4 linked regions of the Homo sapiens genome follow. The protein of the gene in region 4 purifies or fractionates together with the protein of the main gene of each other region. This does not show direct contact. Each region holds a gene or a part of one and is shown on either strand. Other genes may lie near its edges. The genes, in order: PPP6R3, NOTCH3, PPP6C and ANKRD44.

The links.
Region 1: the proteins of ANKRD44 (region 4) and PPP6R3 purify together in Homo sapiens (affinity purification with mass spectrometry; 4 studies listed by BioGRID and IntAct, with this or other methods). This does not show direct contact.
Region 2: the proteins of ANKRD44 (region 4) and NOTCH3 purify together in Homo sapiens (affinity purification with mass spectrometry; 4 studies listed by BioGRID and IntAct, with this or other methods). This does not show direct contact.
Region 3: the proteins of ANKRD44 (region 4) and PPP6C purify together in Homo sapiens (affinity purification with mass spectrometry; 7 studies listed by BioGRID and IntAct, with this or other methods). This does not show direct contact.

Annotation. Positions count from the first base shown.
Region 1 is NC_000011.10:68,463,731-68,470,757, reverse strand, and holds part of PPP6R3 (serine/threonine-protein phosphatase 6 regulatory subunit 3), read right to left. Parts: intron 1-7,027.
Region 2 is NC_000019.10:15,190,981-15,198,007, reverse strand, and holds part of NOTCH3 (neurogenic locus notch homolog protein 3 precursor), read left to right. Parts: intron 1-429; coding exon 430-508; intron 509-5,488; coding exon 5,489-5,631; intron 5,632-5,709; coding exon 5,710-6,048; intron 6,049-6,140; coding exon 6,141-6,263; intron 6,264-6,350; coding exon 6,351-6,584; intron 6,585-7,027. UniProt on the Homo sapiens protein: Functions as a receptor for membrane-bound ligands Jagged1, Jagged2 and Delta1 to regulate cell-fate determination.
Region 3 is NC_000009.12:125,151,779-125,158,805, reverse strand, and holds part of PPP6C (serine/threonine-protein phosphatase 6 catalytic subunit), read left to right. Parts: intron 1-423; coding exon 424-565; intron 566-4,820; coding exon 4,821-4,900; intron 4,901-5,063; coding exon 5,064-5,273; intron 5,274-7,027.
Region 4 is NC_000002.12:197,118,758-197,125,784, reverse strand, and holds part of ANKRD44 (serine/threonine-protein phosphatase 6 regulatory ankyrin repeat subunit B), read left to right. Parts: intron 1-316; coding exon 317-404; intron 405-2,992; coding exon 2,993-3,135; intron 3,136-4,240; coding exon 4,241-4,453; intron 4,454-7,027. UniProt on the Homo sapiens protein: Putative regulatory subunit of protein phosphatase 6 (PP6) that may be involved in the recognition of phosphoprotein substrates.

The sequences.
Region 1 (7,027 bases), on a different chromosome or scaffold from region 4:
CTGCCAGCAAATCCTGTCTGCTCTTCCTTTTCAAGAAGGATCCAGCAGCCAACCTCTTCTCACTCCCACCCCTGCTCCCCTTCAGTCCCAGCTGCCATTACTGCTCTCCTGGATCACTGCCAGAGCGTCCAACCTCCCTCCAGCAGCACAGGACAGTGGGACCTTTAGAAACCACATCATGTGACACCTCTGCTCAAAACACCAAATGACTTACCCATCTCACTCAGAGAAAAAGACAAAATCTTAACAATGGCCAGTGTGACCTACGCCCTCCCCCCATCTCCCCCATCCATCTGGCCTACCCTCCTCCCACTCTCCCTCAGGCTCCTCACTCCAGCCACACTGGCCTCCGCTGCCCCTCCAACACAGCAGACATGCCTCCTTCTTAGCACCTTGTCCTGCTGACCCTCCGCCTATAATGCTGCCCCTACCCCACTGCCACCCACAGCCTTGTGGCTGGGTCCCTCCACTCCTTCTGTTGACTGCTGTATTTCAATCTGCAGACAAGCACTCCCCCACACCCCACCTCTCCTGGTTTACTTTTCTCCCTGTTTGTATTACCATATGGCTACTGTATCTTTCATTTATCTGTTAACTGTCTTTCCCCTACCAAAATGTAAGCTCCATGAAAACAAGGACTTTTCATCTGCTTTGCTTACTGTTAACATGCCCAGCAGTAGAACAGTGTTTAAGACATGGTAAGTACTCAAACATCTGAATAAAAGGATCACAGAAACAATGTTGAGTGGGGGCAAAAAAAGAACAAAGTGACTCCATTTACATTGTCTAAAGGAATGCAAAAATGAAGTCACATTATATAAGGATACATTTATACTTTGCAACACCATAAAGTAAAGCAGAAAAATGATACATACAAGGTATTTGCCTTGGGGAGGTCAGAAAGAGGGAAGTGGTGAGACGAGGACACAGGGAGCCAAAGGTATGGCAACCTTCTATTTCCTAAGCTGGTTAGTGGGTACACAAGTGTCAGTTCTAATGTTTAATATCTGGGCACATGCTGATATATACTCTTTGAATTCATAGTCCAATTACAAGTTAAAATAAAAAAACAGATTAGAGGCCAGGCATGGTAGTTCACACCTGTTATCTCAGCACTTTGGGAAAACAAGGTGGGAGGACTGCTTGAGCCCAGGAGTTCAAGACCAGCCTGGGCAACATCGGAAGATCTTGTCTCTACAAGAAAAAAAAAAAAAAAATTACCTGGGTGTAGTAGCATGTGCCTACAGTCCCAGCTACTCGGGAGGCTGAGGTGAGAGAATCGTTTCAGCCAGGGAGGTCAGTCAAGGCTGCAGTGAGCTATACTGCACTCCAGCCTGGGACTCTATCTCAAAAAAATAAACAAAAACCACTGCACTCTAGCCTGGGATTACACCACTGCACTCCAGATTACACCACTGCACTCTAGCCTGGGACTCTATCTCAAAAAGATAAACAAAGACAAAACAGATTAGAGCAGGCATTGACAAACTACAACCCACAGGCCAAATCCAACTCTCTGTCTGCTTTTATAAGTAAAGTCCTATTGGAAGACAGCCACCTTCATTTGTTTACAGATTGGCTATGGCTGCTTTCACACTACAAAAGCAGAGATGAGTCCTTGCAGAGACCATTTAGCCTCCAATGCCTAAAATATTTACTAACTGGTCCTTTACAGAAAAAATCTGCAAACCCTCAATAGAGCTGTCTGGTTATAATGCAGAATTTGTAAAGAAATTAAGTGCAAAATCAAAAAGATCCAATCATCTGTTAACATATATTGATCCTTCAAGGCGTATGTGATTATCCACACTATGTTGAAAAAATGATTCTATATAAAATGTGAGACTCCACAGCAAAGTTACCCTACAACGTCCTGTGTGCCAGAAAAGAATAAACTTAAAAGATGTTTTAGAAAGCAAACTGCAAACCTCAAATTTATGATCTCTACTCCACCAGCAGAAATTATGTTATATATGTTCTAATGTTATATTCATATTCACAGTTATATACATTAAAACATATATAACATACTCCAAATTTGGAGGAAGAAAATTTGCATATCAACACTAACTCTGTAACCTCCCCAACACTGAAACCACCATCACCCTGACTTCCGCAGAGCAGCTGGTTAGACCTCGAGGCCTCTCTATGATCCTATAATACTCCATTTCTCTCCTTGAGATCATTCACTGCACCTTGGAGGTGTTTCTGTACTTTTGTTACAAAATACCATACCTATGATGGGAGGATCTCATAGCTGCTGAGTCCATCTAAGGGTGTAATAACAAGAAGTCCACAGTGAAAAGGGACAGTCATTCACAGAGTGTTGTTTACTCAGAAGGGGCAGGGTCTCACTTGCAGACAAAAGAGACAGATGAGACCTGTCCATTGTCCAAAGGCAATACAAACCCTGTGTATCTCTATGTCAACAAAAAAGAACTCCTCAACTACTATACAGTGACAAAAAACTGACACATACTACTACCAAAAATAAAATTCCAGACGTTAACCACTTATTCTGAATTCTAAGTAAAATCCAGCTGTGATGTCACTCTTGAAACAAATAGCACTTAAAACTGTGGTCTGGAACATCACAATCCTATGGAATCACCGGGGCTGAGATTTCTCTGCTCCTTCTGGTTCCATTCTTCTGCATGGCCTCCATTTTTCTGTAAGAATAAATGCGCTGGGCGTGGTGGCTCATGCCTGTAATTTCAACACTTTGGGAGGCCAAGACGGGCGGATCACTAGAGGTCAGGAGTTTGAGACCAGCCTGGCCAACATGGTGAAACTCCATCTCTACTAAAAATAAAAAATTAGCTGGGTGTGATGGCACACGCCTGTAGTCCCAGCTACTCGGGAGGCTGAGGCAGGAGAATCGCTTCAACCTGTAAGGCGGAGGTTGCAGTGAGCCGAGATCGCGCCACTACACTCCAGCCTGGGCGACAGACTGAGAGTCCATCTCAAAAAAATAAATAAATAGAAAATAAATGACGTCTAAGTGTTGTTGCAGCCCAAAACCATGATTCTCACGAATGGAAGCCTCAGTCAATTGTCAAGACTAGTCAGTGTTCCTCCCGCTACGCCCATCTGAGGACCAAAGCCCAACCAATCTGACCAGCCAACCATGGAGCAGGCAGTGTGAACTGCCCTGATTAGGGTCTCAGTGTGACATGTGTTCTCAGGCAAGCTCTTTTTTCTCAAAGTGTGTCTCTGCCACCAGAATTTTTGTTCAGATTTACATGTAGGTATAGGAAACCCAAGGCTCCAACTAACAGTCCCACACAGCTTTCTCCAAGTCTGTCTGACTCAACATCAGTCTGCAGCCGTTTTAGTCCTGCTCTCTAATGTTCCTAAAAACAATCTTTCATTCATCTTTTCTTGGGCCATCAGATTTCACGGTAGTCAATCTCTGGGGAATTCAAATCACTTCAAGTCACTATGTATTTCCACTGTAAGAAATTCTGGAACTAATAATCCCGTGGTTTTCCCCAGAGTTACTGTGAAGTACAAAATCAGAGCCTCCTTATATCTGTAAAAAGATGTTCAGAACCTATCGAACTTTAATTGCATAAGTTCAGTCAACTGTATAGTCTTCACTAATGCATCTAAAACAGGTCAACTCTAGCCAGCCGTAAGTGACAATTAGTAAATAGCCTCTACTCAGGGTAAAGCCAGCTCTTTGCCCAGTCTGTGACATGACAATGTCCTAGCTAGGGCCGGGTGCAGCGGCTCACGCCTGTAATCCCAGCACTTTGGGAGGCCAAGGCGGGCGGCTCACTAAGAGATCGAGACCATCCTGGCTAACACGGTGAAACCCCGTCTCTACTAAAAATACAAAAAATGGCCAGGCGCGGTGGCTCACGCCTGTAATCCCAGCACTTTGGGAGGCCAAGGCGGGCGGATCACAAGGTCAGGAGATGGAGACCATCCTGGCTAACACGGAGAAACCCCATCTCTATAAAAATACAAAAAAAATTAGCCGGGCGTGGTGGCAGGCACCTGTAGTCCCAGCTACTCGGGAGGCTGAGGCAGGAGAATGGTGTGAACCTGGGAGGCGGAGCTTGCAGTGAGCCGAGATAGCGCCACTGCACTCCAGCCCGGGCGACAGTGTGAGACTCCGTCTCAAAATAAATAAATAAATACAAAAAATTAGCCGGGCATGGTGGCCGGCCCCTGTAGTCCCAGCTACTGGGGAGGCTGAGGCAGGAGAATGGCGTGAACCCGGGAGGCAGAGCTGGCAGTGAGCCGAGACCACGCCACTGCACTCCAGCCTGGGTGACAGAGCGAGACTCCGTCTCAACAAAAAAAAAAAAAAAAAAAAGAAAATGTCCTAGCTAGGCATAGAGATAAGATACCTTTCCACATACTGTCAAATGCCCTTTTACTTGCTTCTTTACCACGTAGCCAACCTACCTGGTATCCAAATGTCAGTCTGTAATCTTTCAATACCTGAAATAAACTGAGTATTGATCTAACTAGCAACTATCTCCCTCCTCATAAAACTAAAGGGGGTGAGAAGTAGGAAAGGGGGCTTCCATGACAAATAAATCTAAGCCAAAGTCAAAAGGCCAAAACAAAATCTCCAGTCAACCTAGATCCATAATGCAGCAGGAGAAACACCCCCTCCCACTTGAAGTAGCATCTATTTCAAGAATGCCGGAAACATTTTGCAAAAACCTACAGCAAGCTTCGGACGGGTCTGGAACCAGAGAGTCAGTGTCTGAGGTTTGGTCAAAGGATAACTGTTGTGTAGGGAGCTATAAACAGCTATCTGTCATTACAAAACGGCTTCAGTATGGGAAGAATGGCACTGCTTTTTAAGACTCCTCAAACTAAGGAGGCAAGTCGAAGTAATCATTTCTTATAAATGAGTAACAAAGTGTAACTATCTTATTCTTTTGCAAAACTTCTGGCAATCTCAACCACCCAAAGTTTAAACAAATCAACCAACTGACCAGCAAACAGAAGCTCTTTCCTCCCAGGCCCCATTGACACCATGTACAATTCTTAACAGCTTTGTCGTCTCTTGTTTGCCTCTTCCTCTAGACTGCAGGTCCTTAAGGGCCTGTTCATCAGTGAATCCCTAATACAGTTCCTAGCAGAGTAAGGACTCAATTAATGTATTTGCTGATGAAATAAATGGATATTAGAAGTAGATGGTGGTCACTGGTAGTTCTCAACATAGGCACAGGCCGAATTTCAGGATGAAGAATAAGAAAATGCCTCCATGACCTTTTGTAACTTCAGATATTAACATTTAGCTGCTAAAAATTTATAGTTTTCCTAATATTCTTCCATTCCATAAACTAGATAATCTAAATTTTAATATGAGCAAAAAAGATCTACCCTTCTCTCTACCACTGCATCTCATCTCCCCAGGAGAAAAGAACACTTCTCTGCTGGGATCAGAGTCTAGGGCACAGAAGAGTCCAACTTACCAGTGGGCAGGATCACTGTGTTAAAGGCTGAGCATACTGTATGCCTATCTGTGCCCTCAATGGGCAGAACTGGTAAACTGATCCAGGGCTAATTCTCTGGGAATAGGTCTTTATTAAAACAAAAACAAAAACAAAAAACAGGCATGGTGGCTCACGCCTGTAATCCCAGCACTTTGGGAGGCCGAGGCGGGCGGATCACTTGAGGTCAGGAGATCGGGACCAGCCTGGCCCACATGGTGAAACCCCATCTCTACTAAAAATACAAAAATGAGCCAGGTGTGGTGGCACGCACCTGTAATCCTAGCTACTCAGGAGGCTAAGGCAGGAGAATCACTTGAACCCAGGAGGCGGAGGTTGCAGTGAGCCAAGATCATGCCACTGCACTCCAGCCTGGGTGACATAGTGAGACTGTCTCCGAAAAAAAAAAAAAAAAGTTGAAGCTGGCATCTAAAACCAGACCTGACCACTGACTGACAAAAGGAGGGCAAAAGATACTAACTCAAAAATTACAGTAGTGTAAGATTATTCAGCACAGAAGCAAACTCTAAATATCTAAGAATTTTGCTTAGTTTCAGCACAGTATGGTAATGTATTTTCATGAGGTTAAGAAAAAAAAGTCCTAAGATATTTTATAAAATCAATTAACAAATGCTTCTAAAGTTCAGTCTTCAGGCATCTGAAAAATGGTTAAGTATACCATCTAAATAATCCCCACTACTAAATAATCTCCAAGGCAGGATCTAGGTACTGCAAAGACCAAGTTCACAGATCACCGAAAGGAACCCTTAACTCACAAACAGTCCCTAAACCTGTGGTGTAAAACAGTGGTTCCAAAATTCAGCTGCATTTCAGTATTGTCTGAGAAGCTTCTAAAAAATAGATTCTCGTGGCCGGGCATGGTAGCTCACACCTGTAATCCCAGCACTTTGGGAGGCCGAGGCGGGTAGATCACGAGGTCAGGAGTTCAAGACCACCCTGGCCAAGATGTGAAACTCCATCTCTACTAAAAATACAAAAAACAGCCGGGCATGGTGGCGGGTGCCTGTAATCCCCGCCACTAGGGAGGCTGAGGCAGAGAACTGCTTGAACCCAGGAGGCAGAGGTTGCAGTGAGCCGAGATGGCACCACCACACTCCAGCCTGGGCGACAGAGCTAGACTCATCTCAAAAAAAATTAATAAGATTCTCAATCCCACCATTTCCAGAGGTGGAGTCCAACATCCATGGTCTTAAAAAATTTCTAATTATTCTAATGCAGGCTTATTCTAATGTAGGCCAGTCTCACATCTATCTAAGTGCAGGATTTCTCAACCTCAGCAGTGTTGCTATTTGGGACTGGATACTTTTGCTGGCGGGCAGGGAGGAGGCTATGCTGGACACTGTAGGATGTTTAGCAGTATCCTTGGCCTCTACCCTCCAGAAGCACACTGCCCACTCCCAGAGGTGTAACAAGCAAAAATATGTCCAGACACTGCCAAATGTTTCCTGGGGGGTGAGGGGGGAACCACCCCCAACTGAGAACTCTTGAACTAGAGTAAATCAAAAGACAATCATTTGAAGTTAAGAAAGGAAAGAAATATGAAAGCT
Region 2 (7,027 bases), on a different chromosome or scaffold from region 4:
ACCCGTGGCCCTAGGATCCCCTGCCCCTTCCCCTTCTATTACCCCTGAACCTGGGCATGAAGCCCCAGACCTCCCTGTAACACTCAGCACCCTTACTTCCTGTCTCAGCACACCCCATTCTGCACATCTTAGCTCTGGCAGCTTCCCGAGCCCCCACATCTGGCATAAGACAGCCCCTCCTCCTGCCTTCCCCTGCTTTGTGGTTCCCAGGGCTCGAGCTGGCAGGGACAGCTGCAGCCTCAACAGCTGGGGCTGGGGCGGGGGGGGGGGGGGCGTGGGAACTGTGGATGGGGGGACTCCCTGCACCCGCAGAGACGCCCCCATCCCCATGCAGCTGTTGCCTGGTGGAGGGAGGGAGGGGGTTTGTCACTTGGGCCTGGGGTTCCTGGGCACCTGGCTGATCCTCCACCTTCCTTCACCCCCACACAGCCCCCCCTTGCCTGGACGGAAGCCCGTGTGCAAATGGAGGTCGTTGCACCCAGCTGCCCTCCCGGGAGGCTGCCTGCCTGTGAGTGCCTGGCTCAGAGCCACCAGTGGGCCCTGTGTGTGGGGGCGGGGGGGAGGGGCGATTTGTCTTCTCCCTCTGCCTCTGTGTTCACCATGGATGTCTCTACCACTTCCTACATGTGTGTGGCTTGGGCAACCTCTCGTGTTTCCCCATTGGAAACTGAGCAGGGGCTCTGCACTCTTCTTGGCATGGGTTCAAGTCCCACATCATGTTGCTGACCGGCTAGGAATTAAACTCTTTACATCTCAGTGTCATGGTCTGCAAAATGGGCCCAGTAATCCCAGCTTCACAGTTCTTGGCCACCTGAGGTCACATGTAAAGCCCCCCATGAGGTAGGTATTATTCAATCAACAAACTATCAGGGACCAATCGCAGTGGCTCACACCCTCCACACCCCTCCCATCTCTCAACATTTAGTGGAGGGGGACATAGGAGGCCTATAATACAGTCCCACACTGCCACTTACTTGCAGTGTGACTTTGGGCTAGTCACTTTCCCTCTCTGATCATCATTGCACCTGTGAAATAGGGAATGCTTCACTGGCGACTGTGAAGGGACTTAACAATTTAGTTGTTAGATATCACAAGGAAAGGCAAGAGGTTGCAGGGAGCAGAGCAGAGGCTGGGAAGGAGCTGAGCAGAGACAGAAAGAGCTCAGCTTAAATTCTGGGGTCTGGGACACCTTGAGCATTCAAGCTTTTTGAGCCTCAGTTTTTGCATCTGGAAAATGGGGCAATAATAACTCCTGTATGCACTCAACATACATTAAGTGCTCAGAATATAGTATGTGCTCAACATAGGCATTATTATAAATAATAATGGTAGGGAGGCAGGAAACAGGTGCTCTAAGGAGAAGTCTCTCAAGGTTATGAGGAAATGCTTGGCTCCTTTCATGCTATCATTAATAACAGCAGTTCACGCAGTAGCCATTGATTGACTCATTAATGTATTCATTTATTCAGCATCATGTGTGCCAAGTACTGGGTCAGGCCCAAGCTGGGTGGGTCTGGGGTGATTTTAGACCAAGAAGAGCCGCTTTGAAGTTACACCTACATTTATTTTGGCTGGATCTCCCACTCGGGCTCACCTTTGTGGAGGGCTGAGCCTGACTGAGAGGGTTTCCTGGGGCTGGGGGGTCTGCGAAGGTGGGGCGGGATGGGGAAAAGTGTGACCTTACCTGGAGCCACACACCTGGGAGGGCGAGCGGTGGGGCCGGGCGCCTGCGCAGTGGAGCTCCGCGCCTGGAATACTGCCGACAGGTGAATGAGCCCGCGGCTGCCCCGCCCTTCGACAGGTGAATCACCGGCGCGCGCGGCGCCCGGAGCCCGGATCGCCCGGAGTGGAGCGGGCTCAGTCCTCCGAGTTGGGCTGTGGGAACCACTCCCTACACGCCCTCCACCCCCCACGAGTCTCTTTCACGGTCTCAAATACTCAAGTCCTTTCAAGGATGCCCCCAAGCTGTCACCCCACCCATGGATCCCCCAAGACCCCCCCACCGGCAGCAGACGTTTCCATAGACCTCGTCCCCATCTCCTAGTCCTCGCCTCACCCGCCGTGCCCCCCCTAACTAGGTCTGCGCTCCCCCCTCCGTCTCCCCCAAAGCTTAGGCCGTGGGGCGGGGCGCGGGCTGGGGCTGGAACCGGCCCGACCGGTCGGCGGGGGCGCGGGACGCAGAGCGTGGGAACCCGCCCGGGGCGTCGGGAGGGGGCCCGCGCGGGTCGCGCCCTGCCTGGCGGTGGGACCAGCTATCCTCGGCGCCCAGCGCAGCGCGCCCCCTCCCGACGCGCGGTCGGGGCCGCAGTGGTCGCCCTGCGGGCCTTGGAGGAGGGGACGGGAGCTGTGCCCTCCCCTCCCAACGCCACCCGCACCCTTGCTTGCTCGGCCGTGCCCCGACCTGTTTCGCTGGGGGCCGGGGTGGGGGGGATCTTGCGGGTGACGCTAAGGACTGAGTCAGCCGCTTGTTGAGTTCAGTCTCAGGCGTCTGGGACAAGCCGGAGGGAGGACAACCGCGCCAGGGGCGGAGGGTGGGGGGATAGAGGGGGGTGAGGGTTGGCAGCGTCGGGGGGCGGAGCTTGGACTCTCTGGCTTCTCTAAGCCCCTCCCTCTGACCCCGCTAGTGCCCCTTGGAGATTTCCAGTCTTAAGACCAACCCCTCCCAGTTCCAATTCCTCACACTCCTTGGTGGGCTTGGGGAGGGGGCTGCAGGTTGAAGGACCACCCCCCCAAGATGAGGGTACCAACAGTGGTGTCAGTACCCCAACCCTCCACCCTCCCATCCCTGCATAAGAGGCTATATAAGTCCCAGAGAAGGGACTTGAGGGTTTGTGGGAGCCCTGCTGTCTGTCCCTGTGAGTGAGAGTTGCTCATTTCCGCGTGGGATGCTGTGGGTTGGTGTCTTGAGTGCTGGCCAGGCCATGGCGTCCAATTGGTGTGTCCCTCTGTGTGTGTAGCTGTGGTTTCTGGGCCTGTCTGTGTGTGCCTGCGTGGTTGTGTCCTGGGGTCTGAGACTTCTTTTTTTCCTTTTCCTTTTTTTTTTTTTTTTTGAGATCGAGTATCGCTCTTGTTGCCCAGGCTGGAGTGCAGTGGCTCGATCTTGGCTCACTGCAGCCTCTATCTCCTGGGTTCAAGCGATTTTCCTGCCTCAGCCTCCGGAGTAGCTGGGATTACAGGCATGTGCCACCACACTTGGCTGATTTTTTGTGTTTTTAGTAGAGACGGAGTTTCTTCATGTTGGTCAGGCTGGTCTCGAACTCTTGATGTCAGGTGATCTACCTGCCTCGGTCTCCCAAAGTGTTGGGATTACAGGCGTGAGCCACCGCGCTTGGACATGGGTCTGAGACTTTTCATTTGCTGTTCCCTCTGCCTGGAATGCCGTTCCCCAGAAAGCCCCATGGCCCCCTCCTTACCTTCATATGTCTGTGAAAATAGAATTCCACCTCCTTGACCCCATCATTCTATCCCCCTTAACCCTGTGGTTTAGCTTCCTACGGCTGCTCTAACAAATTACCATAAACTGGGTAGCTTGAACAATAGTAATTTATTCTCTTGAAGTTCTGGAGGTTGGAAGTCTGAAATCAAGATATCGGCAGGGCTGAGCCTCTCCATGGGGACCCAGGGGAGAACTGACTCTTGCAGCTTCTGGTGGCTCCAGACGTTTCTCAGCTAGTGGCTGTCTCACTCCAGTCCCTGTCTCTGTCTTCTTCTCTTCCTTCTCCCACCCAAATCTCCTTTTGGCTGCCTCTCTCTTTTTTTGAGACAGAGTCTTGCTCTGTCACCCAGGCTGGAGTGCAGTGGTGCAATCTTAGTTCACTGCAGCCTTCAACTCCCAGGCTGAAGCGATCCTCCCACCTCAGCCTCCCAAGAAGCTGGGACTACAGGTGTGAGCCACCACGGCCAGCTAATCTTTTATTTTTATTTTTTAGGTGGAGTCTCTCTCTGTCACCCAGGCTGGAGTGCAGTGGCACGATCTCGGCTTACTGCAACCTCCGCCTCCCAGGTTCAAGCAATTCTTCTGTCTCAGCCTCCTGAGTAGCGGGGACTACACGAGTGCACCACCACGCCCAGCTAATTTTTGTATTTTTAGTAGCGACGAGGTTTCACCATATTGGCCAGGCTGGTCTTGAACTCCTGACCTCGTGATCCGCCCACCTCAGTCTCCCAGAGTGCTGGGATTACAGGCATGAGCCACTGCGCCTGGCCTGTTTGTTTTTTTTGTTTTTTGTTTTTTTTTGAGATGGAGTCTCCCTCTGTCAACCAGGCTGGAGTGCAGTGGTGCAATTTCGGCTCACTGCAACCTCCGCCTCCTGGGTTCAAGCGATTCTCCTGCCTCAGCCTCCAGAGTAGCTGGGATTACAGGCTCCTGCCACCATGCCCGGTTATAATTTTTAATTTTTTTTTGTGGAAAAAAAGTCTCCCTATGTTGCTCAAGCTGATCTTGAACTTCTGGCTTGAAGTGATTATCCTGTCTTGACCTCCCAAAGTGTTGGGATTACAGTTGTGAGCCGTTCTCTTGTATGAACACTTGTCACTGAATTTAGGGCCCAGGTGGATAATTCAGAATAATCTCATCTTGACATCTCTCATTTAATTACATCTGCATAGCCAGGCCTGGTGGCGTGTGCCTGTACTCCCAGCTACGCAGGAGGCTGAGACAAAGAATTGCTTGAACCCCGGGAGGTGGAGGTTGCAGTGAGCCAAGATCGCGCCACTGCACTGCAGCCTGGGTGACAGAGCAAGACTCCGTCTCTTAAAAAAAAAAAATTACATCTGCAAAGAGCCATTTAAAAAAAAAGTAAGGTCCTAGTCACAGGTTCTGGGACATGGATGTCATCTTTTCAGGGGCTGTGACCCAACTGACTACATCCTTCATGGTTCTGATGGCTTTCACCGCCCCCTGCCAGCATGTTGTATATTAATTTGTTATTCGTATATGTTCTCCTTGCCTGGACCTGGCTGCAAGGATCCAGAGGGATAGGGACCCCTTTCATTGTGTTTGTTGCTGTATTTGTATTGCTCAGAACGTAGTAGGTACTCAGTAAATATTCGTTGCATGAATGAATGTGTGTTTTGTTTTGTTTTGTTTCTTTGAGACCGAGTCTTACTCTGTCACCCAGGCTGCAGTGCAGTGGCGCGATCTTGGCTCACTGCAACCTCCACCTCCCGAGTTCAAGCAATTCTCCTGCCTCAGCCTCTTGAGTAGCTGGGACTACAGGCACGCACCACTATGCCCAGCAAAGTTTCGTACTTTTAGTAGAGACGGGGTTACACCATGTTGGCTAGGCTGGTCTTGAACTCCTGACCCCAAGTGATCTGCCCGCCGCAGCCTCCCAAAGTTCTGGGATTACAGGCGTGAGCCACTGCTCCCAGCAAATGTGTGTTTGCTGCTCTGTTTCCCTGCGTGTTTCTTGCCTGTCTTGTGTGTATCTTTGTGTCTGGGGCCATCCTGCCCTGTGCTGCCCAACCAAGCCATCTCTGCCCACAGGTGCCCGCCTGGCTGGGTGGGTGAGCGGTGTCAGCTGGAGGACCCCTGTCACTCAGGCCCCTGTGCTGGCCGTGGTGTCTGCCAGAGTTCAGTGGTGGCTGGCACCGCCCGATTCTCATGCCGGTGCCCCCGTGGCTTCCGAGGTGAGAGGGGAAGAGTCTGGAGGGGAGGTAGTCGGGGGTGTGGTCAGTCCTAAACTCACCCTGTCCTGGTCCCTCCAGGCCCTGACTGCTCCCTGCCAGATCCCTGCCTCAGCAGCCCTTGTGCCCACGGTGCCCGCTGCTCAGTGGGGCCCGATGGACGCTTCCTCTGCTCCTGCCCACCTGGCTACCAGGGCCGCAGCTGCCGAAGCGACGTGGATGAGTGCCGGGTGGGTGAGCCCTGCCGCCATGGTGGCACCTGCCTCAACACACCTGGCTCCTTCCGCTGCCAGTGTCCAGCTGGCTACACAGGGCCACTATGTGAGAACCCCGCGGTGCCCTGTGCACCCTCACCATGCCGTAACGGGGGCACCTGCAGGCAGAGTGGCGACCTCACTTACGACTGTGCCTGTCTTCCTGGTGAGTGAGCCCTACTCAGGAGAGTCAGAGGGGTGGGCGTGGGGACAGCAGGCCAGCCCGGCGGTGACCATCCTTGCCCCCTTCCCTGCTAGGGTTTGAGGGTCAGAATTGTGAAGTGAACGTGGACGACTGTCCAGGACACCGATGTCTCAATGGGGGGACATGCGTGGATGGCGTCAACACCTATAACTGCCAGTGCCCTCCTGAGTGGACAGGTGGGCACTGCGGCCAGAGGGAGCGGGGAGGCAGGCCTCGGGTGGACATGCGCCAGGTGGCTGGACTGCTGCATCTGTGTGCCACAGGCCAGTTCTGCACGGAGGACGTGGATGAGTGTCAGCTGCAGCCCAACGCCTGCCACAATGGGGGTACCTGCTTCAACACGCTGGGTGGCCACAGCTGCGTGTGTGTCAATGGCTGGACAGGCGAGAGCTGCAGTCAGAATATCGATGACTGTGCCACAGCCGTGTGCTTCCATGGGGCCACCTGCCATGACCGCGTGGCTTCTTTCTACTGTGCCTGCCCCATGGGCAAGACTGGTGAGTGGCCGTTTTCTCTGCAGGGAGCCATGGATGGTTTTTAGTGAGGGCAAATAAGAAGTCTGACTTGAGTGTTAGAAAGATTATGCTAGGCTGGGCACAGTGGCTCATGCCTGTAATCATAGCACTTTGGGAGGCCCAGGCGGGCGGATCACTGGGGTCAGGAGTTTGAGACCAGCCTGGTCAATATGGTGAAACCCCATCTCTACTAAAAACACAAAAATTAGCTGCGCGTGGTGGTGCACACCTGTAATCCAAGTCTCTCAGGAGGCTAAGGCACGAGAGTAGCTTGAACCCAGGAGGTGGAGATTGCAGTGAGCCAAGATTGCACCACTGCACTCTAGCCTGGGTGACAGAGTGAGACTCCTTCTCAAATTTAAAAAATAAAAAAAAGATTATGCTAGGCCGGGCACAGTGGCTCATGCCTGTAATCCCAGCACTTT
Region 3 (7,027 bases), on a different chromosome or scaffold from region 4:
CCTGTAATCCCAGCTACTCAGGAGTCTGAGGCAAGAGAATCGCTTGAACCCGGGAGGCGGAGGTTGCAGTGAACCGAGATTGTGCCACTGCACTCCAGCCTGGGTGACAGAGTGATACTGTCTCAAAAAAAGAAAAAAAAGAAAAAAAAATGGTGGTTTTTTTTTTCAGGGAAAGTTTTTGAGAGAATGGCACAGCAGATTCTTGTAGATTTCCCTGGAATCAAAAATCTTGTTTGTATAAACATTTAATAGAAAAAATTTGTTTACGTGTATTTTATTTTTTTGTTAAAATCAAATTTCCAAATAATTCAGTATGTAACTCTTTATTGTAGTTATAAACTATATGTTTGTACAGTTTGATATAATTTGAAAAGAATATTGTGGCTATTGTATTGTTTGTAACTGTAAACTTTTACTTCACAGGGTGATTTTGTAGACAGAGGTTACTATAGTTTGGAGACCTTCACTTACCTTCTTGCATTAAAGGCTAAATGGCCTGATCGTATTACACTTTTGCGAGGAAATCATGAGAGTAGACAGATAACACAGGTCTATGGATTTTATGGTAAGAATTCCTATTTCTCTGATTCTGAATATTATTTTACTTTCCTCTTTGGAAAACAAAGCTACACAAGTCATACACATGCTTTATGTATATTATTTTCCCCACATCCTCACTCCTTCACTCCTCCCAAACAATTGAAAATCTTATGCTCGAGAGAAGACCACTGTTAACTTTTTGGTGTGCATCTTTCTAGATCTGTGCCTCAAAGTGTAGCTGGAATCACCTGGGTTCTCATTAAAAATGTAGATTGCCGGCCGGGTGGGGTGGCTCACACCTGTAATCTCAGCACTTTGGGAGGCTGAGGCAGGCGGATCACAAGATCAGGAGATCGAGACCATCCTGACCAATATGGTGAAACCCCTTCTCTTCTAAAAATACAAAAATGAGCTGAGCGTGGTGGTGTGTGCATGTAATCCCAGTTACTCGGGAGGCTGAGGCAGGAGAATTGCTTGAACCAAGGAGTCAGAGTTTGTGGTGAGCCGAGATCATGCCACAGCACTCCAGCCTGGCGACATAGGGAGACTCCGTCTCAAAAAAAAAAAAACCAAAAAAAAAAGGAGAATGCTGGGCCTCACCACAGATTTATTAATCAAAATATTTTGGAGTGGGAATCTAGAATCTGCTGAAGGTGAATGTTCTGCACAAATTTGAGAGTCCATTCTCATCCATTTTGTATGTGTGTGTGTGTGTTTATGTGTGTTTATATATGTACAAACACGTGCACACTAAAATGGGGACATACCTGATTTTTTCACTTTATTAATGTTATTTTCATGGCTGCTTCATATACCATATGGATGTAGCATAATTGATGTATCAGTTTTTCCTCTATCGTTGGACTTTAGAGTTGTTTTTAAGCTGCTGTTATACATCCTTTTACATATATCTCTGTATGCTCACTCCAGAGAATGCTAGGACCTCAGGGATCAGAAGCAGAACTTAGTCATAAACAGCAAAATAGGCCAGGCGCAGTGGCTCACCCCTGTAATCCCAGCACTTTGGGAGGCCGAGGCGGGCGGATCACCTGAGGTCAGGAGTTCGAGACCAGCCTGGCCAACTAAACCCTGTCTCTACTAAAAATACAAAAATTAGCCGGGCACTGGTAGGGGGAGGGGGGAGGGATAGCGTTAGGAGACATACCTAATGTAAATGACGAGTTAATGGGTGCAGCACACCAACATGACACATGTATACATATGTAAAAGACCGACACGTTGTGCACATGTACCCTAGAACTTAAAGTTTAATAATAAAAAAAATTTAGCCGGGCATGGTGGTGGGGGCCTGTAATCCCAGCTACTCAGGAGACTGAGGCAGGGAGAATTGATTGAACCCAGGAGGTGGAGGTTGCAGTGAGCCAAGATCGCTCCATTCCACTCCAGCCTGGGCAACTGAGCCAGACTCTGTCTCAAGAAAGGAAAAAAAGCAAACTAGCTAATTCTTTAAAACTTTTATTTGGTTGAAAGAGAGAGAGAGAGAGAGAGAGAGAGAGAGAGCGAGCTTATTAGGAAGCCCCTTCAGGGAAATAGAACTGTCAAGATTATGAATTTGGATTTTCCTTGAGCACAATTAAGACAGATATTGAGAGATTTGGAAACATTAATTGCAGAACCCTTTAGATTTAAATTTTATATTTTGAATTATCTTCTTTCATTATAAAGATAGGCTGGGCCAGGTGTGGTGGCTCATGCCTGTAATCCCAGTACTTTGGGAGGCTGAGGCAGGCAGATCACAAGGTCAGGAGATCGAGACCATCTTGGCCAACATGGTGAAACCCCGTCTCTACTTAAAATACAAAAATTAGCTGGGCATGGTGGCACTTGCCTGTAGTCCCAGCTATTCGGGAGGCTGAGGCAGGAGAATCCCTTGAACCCGGGAGGTGGAGGTTGCAGTGAGCCGAGATTGCACCATTGCACTCCAGCCTGGATGACAGTGAGGCTGTCTCAAAACGAAACAAAGCAAAGATAATCTGAACTCTCTTACTCTTCAGTTTGTCTGCCATTATCAATTAGAGAAATTTTGAGAATTTATTGTTTTTATATAATTTTTTTAATACGTGTAAAGTTAGGTAATATTTATCTCCTTTCTACAGGTGACTTTTTATTTTCATTCACAAAATAAACACCAATTGAAATACAACTTTTGGATTCTTTTGCAAAATAATCAATATTTTGGATAACATACTATGATATTAGCTCAGTGAAAACAGTACTAAAACTAATGTTATAAAAACACACACACCTACTATATATATGTAACTAATGCTACATGTATAATATATAAAATACATATTGTTATATATGGCTAATATATGACTTTTTTTTTTTTTTTTTTTTGAGACGGAGTCTCGCTCTGTCACCCAGGCTGGAGTGCAGTGGTGCGATCTTCGCTCACTGCAAGCTCTGCCTACTGGGTTCACGCCATTCTCCTGCCTCCGCCTCCCAAGTAGCTGGGACTACAGGCGCCCGCCACCATGCCCGGCTAATTTTTTTGTATTTTTTAGTAGAGACAGGGTTTCACCGTGTTAGCCAGGATGGTCTCAATCTCCTGACCTTGTGATCCGCCCGCCTCGGCCTCCCAAAGTGCTGGGATTACAGGCATGAGGCACTGCGTCCAGCCATATGACATATGTTTTGAATAAGATAATTTTAGTTATTATAGGACTTATATTGATTTTCAAGGAATAAAATATCCCTATATGACTTTACACTGGGACTTCAGTTCACACTGATAAACACATACTGGGCAGTTACTATTGAGCCAAGTTCAAGATCCCTGCCTGCAACCTGAGCTCATTGTTAGGGCTCTCTTATGGCAAGTTTACATAACAATCTTGCTTCACGTAGATATATAATTGAGAAAATCTTGGGGATTGGTCATAACCTGCAGACTTCTTTCCTATATCATTTTCAGCTTCACTTAAGGCAATAGTGATATGTCAGGTTTTTTTTTTTCTAAAATTATGGAAGAAGCCAAAGTACAGAGCTTCCATGGTGTTAACAAAAGAAGTGTGTACCCTATTAACTATGTAGACAGTCAGGGTACAGTGGCTCACATCTGTATTCTCAGCACTGTGGGAGGCTGAGGTAGGAGGATTGCTTGAGCTCAGGAGTTCAAGACCAGCCTGGACAACATAGGGAGATCCCCATCTCTACCAGAAATAAAATTAGCCAGGTGTGGTGGCACTTGCCTGTAGTTCCAGCTGTTCAGAAGGCTGAGGTGGTGGGATCGCTTGAACCCAAGTGGTTGAGGTTGCAGTGAGCTGTGATCGCGCCACTGCTGATTGTGCCACTGTATTCCAACTTGGGCAATAGAGTGAGACCTTGTCTCAAAAACAAAAAACTACGTAGGCAGCAGAAAGAGTGTTCAACTGAGAATTTGTAAGAACCTGATTGGCAATCTGTCCTCAGTTTTGATCCACTGAAGCTCAAGTGTTTAGTCGCACGATTTGCAGAAAATCTCAGAAGAGACAACTTAGCCCTGAGAAGAGTTAGGAATTGCTCATGCTCCTATAACTAAGGATCCTCTAATTTGTTTGATCTGTTTATCCTGCTAGAATTGTCTCCTTAAATAAATTTATCTGCTTACCAGAATTGCCTAATATTAACATAACTGTTAAAACATTTGCTTCAGGTTGTGTGAAATTAGTATTTAACTCTTCTAATGATAGCATTTTGGCTAATAATTTCAGCTGCTTCTTAGGTCCATTCCAGGAATGAAGAGCAGTACTACATCCTTAGGAAATACAGTCATGTGCCACATAATGACATTTCAGTCGATGATGGACTGTATATATGACAGTGGTCCCATAGATAAAACGGAGCTGAAAAATTCCTATTGCACAAATACTTACCATTGTGTTACTATTTCCTTATGATATTTAGTACAGTTACATGCTGCACAAATTTATAGCCTATGAGCAATAGGCTATATCATATTGCCTAGGTGTGTAGTAGGCTAGACCATCTAGGTTTATGTAAGGACATCCGATGATGTTCACACAACGATGAAATCACCTAACAATGCATTTTTTAGAATGTATCCCCATGGTTAAGGGACATACAACTGTATGTAGTTAGTCACTAGCGTTCTTTTGGCTCTATGTGGAGGTCCTAGCAGGACTAAATATGTGTCATATCTTGCTATCCTAGTTTAAGCTGAATTTCTGTTGTACTGAAGGCTGCTCTAGTATTGGATATATTGTTTATTTTTATTAGCAGATTCATTAATTAAAACCCTTCTGTTTCTTTCACAGATGAGTGCCAAACCAAATATGGAAATGCTAATGCCTGGAGATACTGTACCAAAGTTTTTGACATGCTCACAGTAGCAGCTGTAAGTTTCTATTTTTAAAGTCTCATGTACGTTCCTGCCAATAACACATTGCATATTTTTATCTAGTTGTCATCTCAATTATATTGATATCTTTAGTATTCACTGATGAGTTTAGATATGCCTGAGGTTATATGTTCAACTCTTTGTTATCCTTTTTTGCTAGTTAATAGATGAGCAGATTTTGTGTGTCCATGGTGGTTTATCTCCTGATATCAAAACACTGGATCAAATTCGAACCATCGAACGGAATCAGGAAATTCCTCATAAAGGAGCATTTTGTGATCTGGTTTGGTCAGATCCTGAAGATGTGGATACCTGGGCTATCAGTCCCCGAGGAGCAGGTTGGCTTTTTGGAGCAAAGGTCACAAATGAGGTAAAGCCAACATTTTTGGAAATGTAATTTGTGGATTGCTAATGGGCTGCATAGAGAACTATGGTGGCCCTAGATAACAAACTTGTAGTCTAGCTTACTCAAAATATGGTGGCTGTGGATATTAAATTTCTAGTTTAGTTATTAACGTATGTCTTTCTTTAATGGTTAAATAAGATGACACAGTGAAAGCACCTACTCCAGCATCCATTTGGTAATAATGTATAAAGTAAATGTTCTTTCCTTTTTTTTTTGTTTTTGAGATGGAGTCTTGCTCTGTCGCCTAGGCTGGAGTGCAGTGGCGTGATCTTGGCTCACTGCAACAACCTCTGCCTCCCAGGTTCAAGCCATTCTCCTGCCTCAGCCTCCTGAGTAGCTGGGACCACAGGTGTGCGCCACCATGCCTGGCTAATTTTTGTATTCTTAGTAGAGATGGGATTTCACCGTGTTGGCTAGGCTGGTCTTGAACTCCTGACCTCAGGTGATCCACCCGCCTCAGCCTCCCAAAGTGCTGGGATTATAGGTGTGAGCCACCGCACCCGGCCAGCCCCTTTCCTTTCAAGTACTGTAGTTAAGTAACAAAATGGCAAGACCAAGATAGGCAATACTTTTTTTTTTTTTTCTCAAAGACCTCAAATCACACAGATACAGACACTTTATTAGTTTCCTCTACAAGAGACAATAACATGAATCTTTTTTTTTTTGAGACAAGAGTTTCGCTCATGTTGCCCAGGCTGGAGTACAATGGTGCAATCTCGGCTCACTGCAACCTCTGCCTCCTGGATTCAAGCGATTCTCCTGTCTCAGCCTCCCGAGTAGCTGGGATTACAGGTGTACACCACCACGCCTGGCTAATTTTGTATTTTTAGTAGAGACGGGGTTTCACCATGTTGGTGAGGCTGGTCTTGAACTCCTGACCTCAGGTCATCTGCCCACCTTGGTCTCCCAAGGTGCTGGGATTACAGGCGTGAGCCACCGCGCCCAGCCTACGTCAAATCTTTTTTTTCTTTTTAACAGAAATCTCTGTTCATTTGAAAAGCCAAATAGATCCAAAGAAAGAAGATGAAAATTAAATACTTAAATTAATCAAAAGGCACTATGATACCACCTAAAACCTACTGCCACAGTGGTAGTAGGCTAAGGAAGATCAAGCTACAGCAAATCATGTAATGTGAATGTTAGCGATTACATAGCAGGAAGCACATTTGCTTTCCAGAAGACTACGGTACAGTGTTCATTTGGGCCCAAGAGGATCTTTGGCCAGGAAAGGATCAAGATGGATGAAGGTAAAGCCAAATCAAAGGAGTAGGTACAAAAGAGAATCCAAGCTACATAGTCAAGCAGATGATGATGGATCAGGCTTCTTCCTCCCAAGAAACATTTGCTGCGCTGTGCTGCCTCCCCCCTCAACCACCCCCCACCCCCTACCCCATGGCTGCTCAAGCCCAACTGCCTACTCCTGCCTTACAGGGTGCTCAGCCACCGGGACTAGGTTTGGGGTTGCCCAGGGCTCTTGCCATAATTTAGCATAGACCTTGGGGAGAACTGCTCACACATGGGTTGGCTTTGCTGCTGGTTGTTCTCAACAAAGAAAACCCTGAAGCATTCACATGCAGAGTAGTCTGAGCTTCTCCAGTCACAGTCAAACACCCCCACACAACATCCTCAAAAGTCTGAAATCTTGTAACAGCTGAGCTATAGTTAAAGCTGCAAGGCTCACAGAATCATCAAGGAAGCCAGAATGAGACAATGCAGAT
Region 4 (7,027 bases):
ACAAGTGGAAACTGATCTTCTTGCTGAGATTTTAAAGAATGTGATGAAAATATTTGTACACCAAACCTTCAGCATCTATATCATTCTCAACTTTAGAGCCACAATGAATTGAAAAAGTAGGCTGTCACTTCAGTCTTTTCCTCTGACACACATGACACATGTCCTGCTCTGACATCATATTTCTACTTTGTCAGAACTCCAGATCTCTGACCTGCCTTTAGATTTCATGTTAATTTGGCTCAGATCATCTGCAGGCAGTGAGGAGGCCTCACCATTACAGAATGTATGCTTGATTTCATTGTTGGTTATCTTTCAGATGGTCAATTTACTCTTGGCCAAAGGGGCAAATATCAATGCATTTGACAAGAAGGACCGGCGTGCTCTGCACTGGGCAGCATACATGGGTAAGGATTCCATGCATGGAAAGCAAAGTACAGATAACCTTAACTAAATAAGCCATGGGTCTCTCATTGACCATGTAGGTTTTCTCCAGTCTGACTTCTTTTCAAGCTTGGGTTGCAATTGAATGAAGATTTGGTTGGTTTTACTGGCATGCATAGTGCACTCCAGTCGGGCAGTTGCTTTGTCAGATATTTATTTATCCTACAAAGAAGAGGAGGAATGAATCATGGCTTGGGCCTCTTTGAATGTGCTTCAGTCTGGATTGGAAAGCTGCACAGATTGTGCTTATTTTAACTTGTCATGGCAGTAAAATAAGGTGTTTTAAAAAGAAAGAGCACTGGCTCGGAAAGCAAGGACACAAATTCCATTCGTCTTTTTAAATTTATAAATATTTTTGAAAGAAACAAAAAGAAAGGAAGAAAAGACAAACCTCTGGCTATTTTATAGATGGAGGGCACCAGAGGCGCTGGTGATTATCCTGATAGTCCACTGACGACAAAACTGAAGCCTGCAGCCCTCATTTCTACCCGCTTGGGAGAGTTCACATTTCTACGTTTTTCCTTTTCACTTTTGTTGGCAAATCCCACTGACAAATGAGAGATCTCACAGAGTTTATTCTAAGTGTAGACTTGTGGGAAATGAAGAACTAAGATATTCCCTTTGTGTTTCTAATTGGAGAACATCCTGCCATTAGAAAAATAGACAGGATTCTATCAGCACCAAGTTGTAAACAACCTGAATGCCCATCCACAGGAGATTGTTTTGGTAAATTCTGGAAGATCCACACAAGGGGACACTTTGCAGTAACTACAGTGATGAGTCCATGAGTGTTTATTAACACAGAGTCTGTGATATGTTAAATGAAAGCATATTATAAAACAGTATAAATAATATAATTCTCATTTTCATTGAAAAATCTGTACAATAACAAACTTGGAAAATATTATATGCTAAAATTTTAATTGATTGTCTTTGGGGATTTATGATTGTGGATGATTTTGGTTTTCTTTTAATACCTTTTTGCCTTTCTGAATCCTTTTTAACAAGCATATGTGCCTTTTATCATCACTTTAAAAATTAACATTAATTGTAGGGAGAAAGAGTAGGTTGGGGCAGGGATGAAATAAATTATGTGGCTAAAGGTGGGTCTGAGTGAATCCTTGGGCTTAAAAAAACAGAATCTTAAACTTTTACAAGCATTAGCATTTAAAAAAAAAAGTTGACATGGATTTTTGAGTTGGCTGAAGCATATGAAATGACTGCGTGGCACCTGCAGGACTGGAGCCAGTGACTGTGGGAGACAGCTGTGTAGGCCGAACACACACTAAGCTAGTGTGGATAGGACTCAAAGAATGCAAAGTTTCACGATTGCTCTCTGCTGATGTATATACAGTTAAAGCATTTGGATAAATGACTCTAAAGAAATCAAATCATTGTTTTGTGTGCTGTCAGGATACAAATAGGAATAATAGGCAAAACCAGGGCAAATAGCTTAAGATAGCAGCACTAATAATCGAAAAAAATTTTTTCTATATAAAGTCTTGGAGAGAAAAGAGTCAAATTTTAATAAAACAAGCCAATACTTTCCCCCCACCCCAACACACACACAAAGTCCTGGAGTCAGTACTTGTCTTCTACCCTTCAATTTTCAGCCATATTTAGAGCAATGATCCTGAAGCATTGAACAATCTTCAGTCCCGAAATAAAGGTCAAATATGCTTGTTTCTTTGTTTATTTATTTATTTATTTTTTGAGACAAGGTCTCGCTCTGTTGCCCAGGCAGGAGTGCAGTGGTGTGATGTCGGCTCACTGCAGCCTCTGCCTCCCAGGTTCAAGTGATTCTCATGCCTCAGCCTCCTGAGCAGCTGGGACTACAGGCATGTGCCACCATGCCCAACTAAGTTTTGTATTTTTAGTAGAGATGGGGTTTCACCATGTTGTACAGGCTTATTCTATATATAGTGAATTATGGAACAGAGTAAAATATTGTAGAAAAAAATGCTAACAGGAGCTAAAACTAGAAGGGTTTTCTGTTTGGCCTCTAATTCATGAGGATACTTTTAAGTTGAGGCATATGTAATTGCCATTTTTGTGGGTCCAAATACAGTTGAGCAGCAGTAATTTTATATGATTAAACAATAATCTGGGGTCATTCTCATTAATTGTTTTTTTTTCTTTTATCAGTTTTTCCTAACTGAATTGTCATTGTTAAACTTTTCAGTGAGGAATGGCAATTGTTTTCAAAAGCATTGCTTTCATTTTAATACAACATTTTTAAAGGCTCTCTACTAATATCTTGGCAAAACCTCACCATTATTCATTAGTGTGGTAACAAGCATCACCTAGATCTCCTTGAAGAGAAGGCTCACATATGAATCATCTTTTTTCTCCCCACAGCTTTTACATTATGCCTGACTATAGGAGGTACTCAATAAATATTTGTTGAATAGTTGCCATGAACCAGCTTTTTACAAATAACTCAGCAAAATACTGGTGGCGATGAAAGCTAATAGTTGATAATTTAGGTGAAATGAATCAGCAAATTGTCCTATAAAGGTTAACGATGTTTTCTGCTGCTTTGTTTGTAAAGGCCACTTGGATGTTGTAGCATTGCTCATTAACCATGGCGCAGAAGTGACCTGTAAGGATAAGAAGGGTTATACCCCTCTGCATGCTGCAGCCTCCAATGGACAGATTAATGTTGTCAAGCATCTCCTGAACCTGGGGGTGGAGGTGAGCTATGATGAATGCATCAATGCATGGCCAGTGTATTTGTAAGATTTCTGTTATTCTAAAGTTAAATCCTGTTTGCACTTTAATTCAAGGGCAGGGGAATTGTTTTCTAGCATCCTGTCTTTTTGAGTTTTTGTGGGCAACTGATGAAGGGCAGTGGGGGCATACACTAAGCAGAGGAAAACTGGAAACTGAATAACTTTCTATATCAACATAGATAAATATATAGACATAAAGATTCTATGTAATATATATTAACCAGTTGTTCTTAAAGACTGGCCAAGGTTCTGCATCCCACCTTCCAAATGTAGCCTTCTAAGTCATGACTTACAGCAGAAATGAATGAATAAATGGCAGAGACAAACAGCAGCAATGTCTACTCTTGAGCTGGAAAAGGCAGACTGCTGCCTTCTCTTTCTGCTGGTAGAACAGGAGCAGTGGTGAGGCTGGAACATCCTGTCCCCCAAGAAAGGAAAACCAAGTTGCATCATTATGGAAAACCATAATGAGGAAACCAGGCATCCAGGGCAGGTCTCAGAAAGCAATAGGGAGCCGTGGACGAAACACACCTCCTGACGGCACCACTGCTCTGCTACTAAAATGCAACCTGGTGAGGTGTCGGACTCCAGAGCAAAACAGAGAGTGGATTCTGACCCGCCTTCCATGTTTAGACTCCACAGCCACCTCCCCTGCCATCTCCGCAGCCACTTCCTCTGCCATCCCCCACCATTTCTTGAGGTTTTCTGTGCCCCAATCCTAGAGTGTGGGACTCTTTTCATTCTCCTCTGATTTACTTCTCTTTTGGTGTTTTGAAAGCAGCTTTGCCCTTCACCTTTTATTCCTTTGTTAGCTGAAAAATACCTCTCCCCAGGATGAAACTTCTCTGTCTCCAGTTCATTTTTTGCCACATTGACTTTTTGCTGATCTTTACCATGGGGTGACAAGCATTCCCAAGATGACCACACTGGGGCAAGAGTAAGCTCTGAACAATTATATTGGCGGATGGCTATTTCCTTTCTCTAGCCACAGCCGTTATGCTTTTTGTGGAAAATGGAGTAAACTGGCTCTAATGACTTTAATCACCCTGTGTTGGACTCTTTTGCAGATTGATGAAATCAATGTCTATGGAAATACAGCGCTTCACATCGCCTGCTACAATGGACAGGATGCTGTGGTTAACGAGTTGATTGACTACGGTGCTAACGTGAACCAGCCAAACAATAATGGGTTCACCCCTTTGCATTTTGCTGCTGCCTCCACTCATGGTGCTTTGTGTCTTGAATTGTTAGTAAACAACGGGGCAGATGTTAACATTCAGGTATGACACTCTTAGTCTCTGTGTTGAATGCCTTTGCATTGAGCTTCTGTTTGAGCAAAATCAACTGCTGCAAATTATGCCATGTTTTAGTGAGTTGGAACCTCACAGCCTTGTCCTGGATTTGGAGGCTATAAGAAAAGTTGTCTGGAGGCTGAGGCAGGTAGATCATGAGGTTAGGAGTTCAAGACCAGCCTGACGAAGATGGTGAAACACCATCTCTACTAAAAATGCAAAAATTAGCCAGGCGTGGTGGCGGGTGCCTGCAATCTCAGCTACTCGGGAGGCTGAGGCAGAGAATTGCTTAAACCCGGGAGACAGAGGTTGCAGTGAGCTGAGATTGTGCAACTGCACTCTAACCTGGGCAACAGAGCAAGACTCCGTCTCAAAAACAAAAAAAAAAAAGTTGTGTTATTTTTCTTCAGGAGTGGTGGTATCAGCTGAAAGGTACCAAGGCTCCAGCCGTGTGTTCTTGTTAGCTTAGTGAATGTGTCAGGACAAATACTGGATCTCTAGGATATTGACTTGCCCAGAAGCTAATACTGAGGTGAATGTTGAGCTGATAGGGCAGTGTTGCTAAGAATTCAAAGGAAGGCCTAATAATGATTGTAGGCCTGTTTCCAACTCCAGTGTGGGTTTAGAGCTTCTCAGATACCTTCTTTCTTTTCTTTCTTTTTTTTTTTGAGATGGAGTTTTGCTCTTGTCACCCAGGCTGGAATGCAATGGCGTGATCTCAGCTTACTGCAACCTCTGCCTCCCAGGTTCAAGCGATTCTCCTGCCTCAGCCTCCCCAGTAGCTGGGATTACAGACATGCACCACCATGCCCAGCTAATTTTTTGTATTATTAGTAGAGATGGTGTTTCACCATGTTGGCCAGGCTGGTCTCAAACTCTTGGCCTCAAGTGATCCACCTGCCTCAGCCTCCCAAAGTGCTGGGATTACAGGTGTGAGCCACTGTGCCCAGCCAATACCTTCTTAAAGCAAACCCCAGATAGTGGCTTCAGTGATGTAGCACTGAGCTGGTCATCACAATCATTCCTTTATTCAGCAAATTTACTAAGGACTACCCAGTGCCCTCTGTTTGGTACTGAAAGAGTGCTCTAAGATGAGATTCAGTCTCTGCCTTTAAGGAACTTACAGTGTAGTAGGGAGGTAGCATGCACTCAGGTAATCATGAGCAAGAGAAGATATGATGAGAAGAGTCATAAAGCATTGCAAACTCTAAGAAGCAATTGTTGACTTGTTTTTTGCTTGGGAATAAAAAATGGAGATCGATTTTGAGGGGAGACTTGGAAGATTAATGTAGTTGAGTTGAGGAGGGATAGAGATAATTTGAGAGAGAGTGTTCCAGATAGAACAGCATGAGCAAAGAGGGGTGGGAATTCTGGATAGGAAAACCTCTAGGTAACTTGTCAGCTTGCCATGTGACAGCTAACCAAGGGGAGCTTATCACGCAGCATTCATAATTTGGGCGACATCACTTGAATGCATTTAGATTGTAGCAGAATATCCTTAGCTGTGCTAGGAGACCTTTTATTCAACCCAGGCTTCCCTTCTTCCCAGCACACAGGGATCCTGAAGCAAGGTCCCAGTGTATTCTGTCTCTGGTTTTGAAAAATGATTTCTAAGGTGTAATTTCAAGAATATCACATCAGTCTATTTTAATAACCTTCTCTATTCACTATTAAAATCTTATATTTTTTCACAATTTCTAATAGTGGTGAAAGATGTGACAAATTTTCAGAATAGCAATTGATTGTATCAAATAGAGTATAATTTTATGAACATGCCAAGTGTGGTGGCTCGGCCTGTAATCCCAGCTCCTTGGGAGCCTGAGGTGTAGGATTCCTTGAGCCCAGGAGTTTAAGATCAGCCTGAGCAACCTAGTGAGATCCTGTCTGTAAAAAGCTTTTTTATTTTTAATTGTATGACAGAAAGGAGCCAGAAATGAGCTGAAATGTGATTTGACCAAGGAAGAGGACTCATCTACTGGATGATTTTGAGCCCAAGGAGCTTGGGCCTCTCCAGGCTCTGCAGGCCACGAATCATTCTAGGGGTCATATGATCAGACCTGAGCATTAAAAACAGTAATCCGGTCACAGAACACCAAAGGCAGGAAAAAAAAAGGAAAATAATCATATATATGACTACAAAAAAGTCTTAAACATTTATAAAACAAAACAACAACAATAAAACCTCTAACATGAAATTAAAATAAGAGCAACTTAGGGAAAATTTTCTTCAATATACATGATAAGCAAATAGTTAATATGCTTGATATAAAAAGAGCTCATACAAATCAATAAGAAAAAGTGATCATTACTAGAAAACATGGAGCAAAAGTCAGATCACAAGAGAGAATAAAAAATACATTAAGCCTGTGAAAAACTAGTATTACTGGTAATTAGAAAAATACAAACTAATACAAAAACGTACATTTGTGTTAAAGAACGGCAAATATCAAAATGGCTAATAACACCTAGTATTATCAATGAAAACATTGAAATGCAATAAAGAAATATGATCTCTTTTTTAATGCTAAAATGTTATGGTTATGTGTGTAGATGATGCAAAAA